Linked DNA regions of Homo sapiens. The protein of the gene in region 1 purifies or fractionates together with the protein of each later gene. This does not show direct contact. Each region holds a gene or a part of one and is shown in the gene's direction. Other genes may lie near its edges.

The links.
Region 2: the proteins of RND3 (region 1) and LRCH2 purify together in Homo sapiens (affinity purification with mass spectrometry, with the first as the bait; one large-scale study listed by BioGRID). This does not show direct contact.

What each region holds. Positions count from the first base shown.
Region 1 is NC_000002.12:150,477,384-150,481,355, reverse strand, and holds part of RND3 (rho-related GTP-binding protein RhoE precursor), read left to right. Parts: intron 1-3,972. UniProt on the Homo sapiens protein: Binds GTP but lacks intrinsic GTPase activity and is resistant to Rho-specific GTPase-activating proteins.
Region 2 is NC_000023.11:115,227,597-115,231,336, reverse strand, and holds part of LRCH2 (leucine-rich repeat and calponin homology domain-containing protein 2), read left to right. Parts: intron 1-3,740. UniProt on the Homo sapiens protein: May play a role in the organization of the cytoskeleton.

The sequences.
Region 1 (3,972 bases):
ACAAACAGAGGACATAGAAAGACTTCCTCCTGTCTAGTGCTGTAATACCTGTTTATAGGATGGTGAGCCCGGAGGTTCTAAACCTGGATTTTTCAAGGAGCAACAAGATCCAAAGAGTTCTTGAAGGCCACAAGGGCAGCCCAGGCTCCCTAACTCATGACTTAATGGTCATTGAGGCCCACCACAATTCCCTTCCTTTCTAGAAGTTGACTAAGTTCTAAGAAGTTTTTAACGTTTCTTCCACGTGGAAACTCGCTTACATTTAGTGGCTCTCAGATAAAACAAGATTCTGGAAGCTGAGAATTATAACTTAAATTAACGTTCTTGGAGAAAGGAAGAGGTTAAGAATTTATGAAGGAGCCAGAGAAGCATGGATGCTTGGGATTTGAATATCAACTGTGAAATTGCAGGAAACCAAGCATTTCATCAGGTAGTAATGATCCATTGGAGCTTAGGGTTTCAAAACTAGGTTTAATTCTTAACGAGTTTTCACACTGAAACTCTTATGTAAAAGACCTGGGTTAAGGTAAAACAGATAGTTTGTATGGTGGTTTCCAATAAGCAGTACATAAAACTGCATTTGGAGATTTGTCCACCATGCAGTAATTTCCATTTAAACCAAGGAACCTCCTAAAAAGGGGAGGGGGCAGTATGAATGCTCTTTCTAAGTCTACATCTGTCTGTAGATTTTTTTTTTTTAGCCGCATTTAGTGCTGTTTTTTTTCCAATCTGGTTTCTTGCTAAGTTGCACATTTCAATGAAGCATCCAAATTGGTCATTCTGATAACACCCGAAATAACCAGATGTTTCCTCATTAATCCAGTTCTTTTGCATGTAAATATGACACCAAGAACCAATACTTTCTCCAGTTAGCTCATGGTGCCTGGCGGGCTCTGCCAAATGAATTAGTCGTGGCTCAGTCATTTTCTGATGTCCTTTAAATGACTTCTCAGTTGCTACATATTGGTCACTTTCTCAGAGTCTCCCTTGGCAAAGCAAACATTTTATTGACACGGAATGTAGTTGACGCAGAAGTTTGACCAGGTGTTGTGCACATTGGTTTTGAAAAATGAGCCTGATGACATAGTTTGTGGAAAGATGAATTCACTCATGGGATTCTACTCCAAGAAATCTGATTCTTAGATATCATATGAAACAAAAACTTGAATCCATTATCCCTATTTACTTTTAGGCATATTCATATACATATACTCTTTTCCCTAAAGCTCTTGACTTAACCATGGTTCCACTGTCAGTAAAATATTTTGATTCTTACATATTTTTAAGTACCTCAATAAGATTAGGAGTTTAAAGCTAAACTTTATTTAAAGGCCAAACATATCTACCTGTCTGACTTTCTAATTTTGTATCTACATTGCCCCCAGAAATAGAAAATCTTTATTCCATTTTAATAGCAACACATAAATGCCCACAAAATTTTATAAGATCTGTTCATAGTTCCTATTACCTGAATCCATGGAAGAAACAAACATATTCTTCCTGGGAGTGTTTGTTGCATATTTGCAGGCATGGTATTTGTTGTGCAGACTACTTGAAACAAGAACTAAACAGTCTTACACTGAGTCAGATACAAAAGTTCTGCCCAGACTTGATTCACATTCTTGAGATTGCTGCTAATTTAAACCTTTTCCTCTGATTAGAGATGGCATGAGGAAATGCAATCTTGTAATAATTGGGCAGATCATGCCCTCTCACATGTTAGCTGCTGCTGCGTTCAGATGTGCTCATGGTGGTCACTAAATATACCAAAAGTTAATCTACTTTTCTCTGCCAAAAATATGCAATAGCTTTAGCTTACTCTTCTTGGTAAAAATTTCTTAAGGGGGAAAGGGAAGCTTTTCAGATGAAGGTTCAAGTTAAATAAATTATATTTATGAAATATTCAACAAGAAGAGTTTTCAGTTCTCCAACTCCTCTAAAGCCTCACAGTGTTTAAACTGGTACTTTGCAAAAGGTTCCATAAAGCCTTCCTTTTGGGCATGAATCTTCTTACATATACATTTAATTATGTACATATATGGTGTGTTCTATATTTGCGAAAGGGTGACTTCAGCAGGCAGGTATGTGTCTGAAGAATTAGTTTCTGGGTGAGGCACGTTGTGACTATTCTTTGGCTGGAAATTTTGCTCTCACCCAGAATTAATGATCTTGAATACAAAGATGGGTAGATCTGAAATTTCAAAAGCTCTCTAGAACTTTGCTGATGTTTGCCAAACTTGAGCAACTCAGAGAACCCCAAGTGTACACTTGTTCCAATCTACCCCCAGCAAAGCCTTTCAACTATATTTTCTGGGTGAGCGGGGTACACATTTTGCATATATAGTGTAGTTGTTTCTTTACAATATAGAGTTTCCCTAAGTTTTTCCTTCAGAGGTGTGGCAGGTTACTTAAAAAGGACCTTGGAATAGGGTTGCGAGCTTAAAAGTTTCATATAGTACCAGAGAAATGCTGCATCTGAGAATTTCCATATGCATGAAGCCTATTCCACATGCTGAAAAAGAGTTTCATTTGACAAGCCAAACGCAGTCCCTAAATGTTATTGGACTTTAGTGCATTCTTAGGTACTAGAGCACATACTCTGTGTATATCAATACCTACCATGTACTGCAGTTAAAGTTGAATACTTTCATACTTAGTAAAAATTGTTGAGCCCTCCTGCTTGTGCTGTGTTTAGTTCTACAGTTAGCACCTTGGGAGTTTTTCATGTGCATCTTTTAAAAACACCTATAGAAGTTAATTTTTTTTTTTTTTTTTTGCCGTTTGGCTTCACAGGGTGTTGTAAGACTTTTCTGGAGGGATATAGGAGTTAGGGGCAGGTATTGTTCCTGCTTTACCCACTTACTTTCAGCTCCTTCCTTTGGTGTCATTTCTGCCCCTCTTTATTGCTTCTCACTTCACAGAGTCATTTCTGGAATTCCTCTTCCTTTTTTTTTGGCATGCGTTGTCTCACGCATACCTGTGATTCCACCGTGCCCTCTCCAGCTTTGCTTGCCTTACTTCCTTTGTGCAGTCTCTTGGGCTTTATGGGGAAGAAAAGGAAGGATTCCAAGTGCTTAAACACAGAGTAAACACTGTAAAGTTACACAGGAGGTGTTTTTGTGTGTGAGTGTTTTTGTTTTTTGTTTTGCTTTGTTTTTTTTTTTATCCTGAAAGTCCTGCTGAGCTGATGACTTACATCTTTCCTGGTGGGACAGTTCTTGATAATTCTATATCAATATTTTTCACTGTGAATAAATAGAGACAATAGATATTTCTATCTAAGACAAGATAAACTTAACCTATCAAAAATATAGTGAATAAATGGTCTTGTTATTTTAAATAAATTACTCTTGTCATTGGCAGTCAAATTATGCTTATAACTAAGAAATATGGGAATCAGTTTTACTATTACCTTTGGACACTCGTGTTGATCTAAAAGCAGCACTGTTCATTAGCAAAAGTAATAGAATGGGATCAAAGTGTCATCCCTAATTAGATCATGTTAAACCTCTTAAAAATTACCTGTCTACCTCCACAAGCACGGTGGTTTATTTCTCATAAACCTTTGCACTACATATGTATTTTCACTTATACTGTTAACCGGATAAAAACAAAAGCAGATACAAACTTCCCTGAAAATCTGGTTTAACTGGAGAACTCCGTTTCATTTTAAAATCAGGCCAGAGTCTAAATTTTGCAGATATTTAGATATATGCACTAAGCACAGAAGCCAGCCCACTTGATTTTAGTAGGTAGCAGTCTCCAGCAGGTGACTCAGGGCTGAGCACAAAGCCAGATCTCCTTTGTGGCCATAAAATGGGTGGGGGACGGGAAACATAGTCCACAAAGGGGGGAGGGGTATTCCCAGCAGTCATGTGGTGGCCTGAATGTTGAAACCATTCCTCAGGATTTTCCTGGCAGTCTCAATTTTAATTAAACTCTTTTATCCTCTTTGTATTTCTTCAATCGCTT
Region 2 (3,740 bases), on another chromosome or scaffold:
ATATGTACATACATACACACACATACATACAGGAACACACATACAGTATATTCTCTATTTGATGAAAATGATCTGTTTGGTGATCTTGTTATACTTAAAATGACTCAGTGGAATACTGTTTCAGAACCAAACCGATTAGTTAGACAAGCATTCCTTATTGCATTAGGAAGAGACAAGAGGAAGGGAAAATAGCTAAGAAGCGGTTAATGTTAATCTAGGTGAGAGGTGGTGAGAATCTGGGTGAAACAATATTGAATAAGGAGAAATTAATACATTTCAAAATAAATGGGGGAAGGTTTTTTTACATTAAGATGAAATAGACCCCTGGTTCTCCACCCTGGCTGCACATTACAATTGCAAGGGAGATTTTTTGTTTGTTTTTTCAACCCTGCCTGGATCCCACCCTAGACCAATTAAATCAGAATCTCAGGGGCCAAGGAACTTAAGGAAAAAAAATCTTCCCAGGTAATTCTAATATGCACTCAGGGCTGAGAAACCCTAAAATTGTTTATTTTTTAAGCACTCAAGAAATATTTGTTCTTTGAGTGAATAAGAACATTGATAAAAGTTTAGTTATTAACCTTAAAGCCACTTGTCAAGAAAGTCAAAACCAAAACTAGGAACTAAATACTCAAAAATTGTTTCAAATTGTTTGATAAATTTACGTGAAGAAAATGATGCCCCCTAAACATGTAGCAGCAAAATCTTTTCTCTGCTAACAGGCTTCCTATGAGGGAAAATGTATTTTAGGCAGCTGTTTGCAGAGTTTATCTTTGGTGTCTTTTTACCTCTCTCTGCATTTCTAGTGTCTGTTCTTCACTTGCCTCCTCCCTTTGTCCCCATCACACTTTTCTCCTTTCTCTTTCTCTCTTCAACCTCACTCCTCTTACTTTATTGGGATAGAGCTCAGGTAAATGATTATGGCAGCCTCTCTAGGAGATTAACATTTAAAAGGGGGAGTTTGCTAATTTACTTGAATCTCCAATTGGTGATTGGAGATTCATGACCTTTTTGAGTAGATCTCCCTTCCAGATACTCCTTGATTAAAATTTTCACCCACATAAGGACATAAAACAGTGATCAGAAAGTTGGTAACCCATTTCAGTAAAGTAGCTGACTCTTGCTGTAATGTCTTCTCCGAGATGGTCTGTAGATAGATTTGACAAGATGAAGGGAAATTGCATAGAACTTTTTGGTCCATCTGGATACTATGATAATTTGTTGACTTGAAAGTGAATTTAATTGTTACCCAAACAAATCCTGAAACCTTGCATAGTTGACTCTGTCACCAGTGCTACAAATAAGTGGATATGTTTCAGCGTACTTGCTGCTGCTCCCTCTGCTTCTTTATACCTGTTTATGTACATGAGCAGTAGGTCTGTGAAACAGATTTAGGAATTCTTACATCAGATTCTGCCGTGTCCTGGATAATCACGTGTTTTCCTGTAAACCAGGAGTCAACTCTAGTATTTCCTACATGTGCTGGTTCACCTTTTCAACTGTAGGGCATGGTGCATTGTATCAGGTTGTAAAATGGAGCCAGATAAACACAGCATTTGATTTTGTGAGGTGAAGGTCCTCTCAGTGCATTTAGTGGAATGAGCTCATGATTGTGATTTTGTGGCCTTATTCAAATATCTGCCTTGCTTCATTTAATAAATGTCTTCCTGAAAAATCGAATGTGAAGCACATTTTTGACAGTTGACTCATATTTTAATTGCTATAGATTGAATCTGAATTACTGAACCTTGTACTGATTTATTCAGTGATAAGTTCTACAGCATACTTATCCCTTAATTTCTTTCATTTAAAATAAAATGTTATCTTTAATTGAAGGGTACATTCATCATTAAGATAATACCATTTATACAGCTCTTTATACATTTTTAAGTACTTTCATATATATTATCCTATTGTATCCTAATAATAACCCTGTGAGCTTGGCAGAGTACATAGTAATTGCTCGTTGTGGTTGAGAGACAGGTTAAGTGATTTGTCCAAAGTTAAATGGTGAGTCTGGCAGAGTGTGTGGGTCAGAGCCTAGGTTTTTCAACTCCAGTGCTATCCTAATGTTATTTCCAGTGTAACACATTCTCTCTTTATAAAAAAGCAGTTATTAAACACCATGCCAATAAATAGGTTATTTATTCTGAAAATTCAATGCTTATTTAACTTCGTAGGTTATATACTTTTTGTTTGTGGTATGGTGTGTTTTGTTTTGTGTGTATTTGCATAGCTATCATGCCTCTCTTATGGTTTTAGAATAGATTCATTAAGCAAGCATTTATTGAACTCCTACTTTGGAAACATGATTATGGCTAATAAAAAGAGACATGGTTTTTGTACTTAAAGGATTTATACAATAGTCAAATGTATACAGTAATATAACCATTAGAAAAGAATTTCACTATAATATATAATAGTATTCAAAATAATATATTTTAATATACTGTACACATAAGAGATCTGGAACTGTGGCATAAGGCTTAATTTTAGAGGGGATTAATTTAGTTTGAGAAAGCTTCCTGAAAAGTTAGGTTAGGTATTTGTTGCATGACAGGTATAAGAACAGAAGTGGTTGATTGGGATGTTTTAAAATTGGGGTTAGTGGAATACTTTTGCTTAAGGTTTAAATTTAATATTTCAATTTAGATTATTTGTGATATAAATTCTGAAGCATTTATTTGGCATGAAGGTAGACAAGATCCAGAACCTCACTGAGAACATAAGAAGTAATGCTAGGGACACTTACTACAAATAAAGATAATTGAAGACTTACAAAATTGATTTGCTGGGAGGTGCCATTTGTTTAAGTTCCTAGGCACACAGTGAAACTTTGCAAAAGAGGCATCTTGTTCTCCCAGCCCAGCCTAGCAGCCCACTCTGTGAGATGCCTTAACTGCATGATACACACCTCCCCATTCTGCAGAGGCTAGTGATCATCATGACCTAGAAAGGGAAATATTTTAGTTTTCTTTTTTTCTCTACACTTTGAGTGTATTTGGGTGCTTCTTAAAACATTGTAATACTCTTATAATCAGTTATCTGGAAAGTTTCAGAAAGGGTTGTCTGCTTCTCATTTACAGAAAAAAAAATACCTTACACGCCAGGGAACCATTTAATGTAATTAAAGAAAACTGTATAAGCCAATTTAATAACAATGTAAGTTTATGTTTACTCTCACTTTCAGCTAGTGCACTCAATCTGCTAAAGGTCAAACTGTAATGTTTAATCTTTACATTTCTCTTGTTTCATGTAAATAGATAGCATTCCATTAACAGAATACCTGTCAATGGACTGTAATGGATAATTCAACAGTAGATATTTTCTAATGTATTTTTTATATCAAATTCTTTGAGGAAAAGTTTTTTCCAAATAGGAAAGTAAGTTCTTTCCTTTTCAGGAACACTTGATTCTGTGTAGTCTTTTCTAATTTGTGACAGAGAATGTTGTCACTTTATTTTTAGATTAATTACTTGTCTCAGTAGAATATTAGAGATTCAAGGTGACAAGAGACAGGTATAAGATAACTGTGACATAAACTTTTCTTTGAACCATATGGAGATGAACTGATTCTAGAACATTTGTGAATTTGGATTTCACTCAGAAATGGCTTTTTGTTAATGATTATGTTCCTAAGAGAATCTAGTATGTATAGTCTAGAGTTTTTCACTTCTTAAAAAAATAATTGCAATACGTAAATCCTTAGTATTTTGAGCTACTTGGTTGGGGATGTCTAT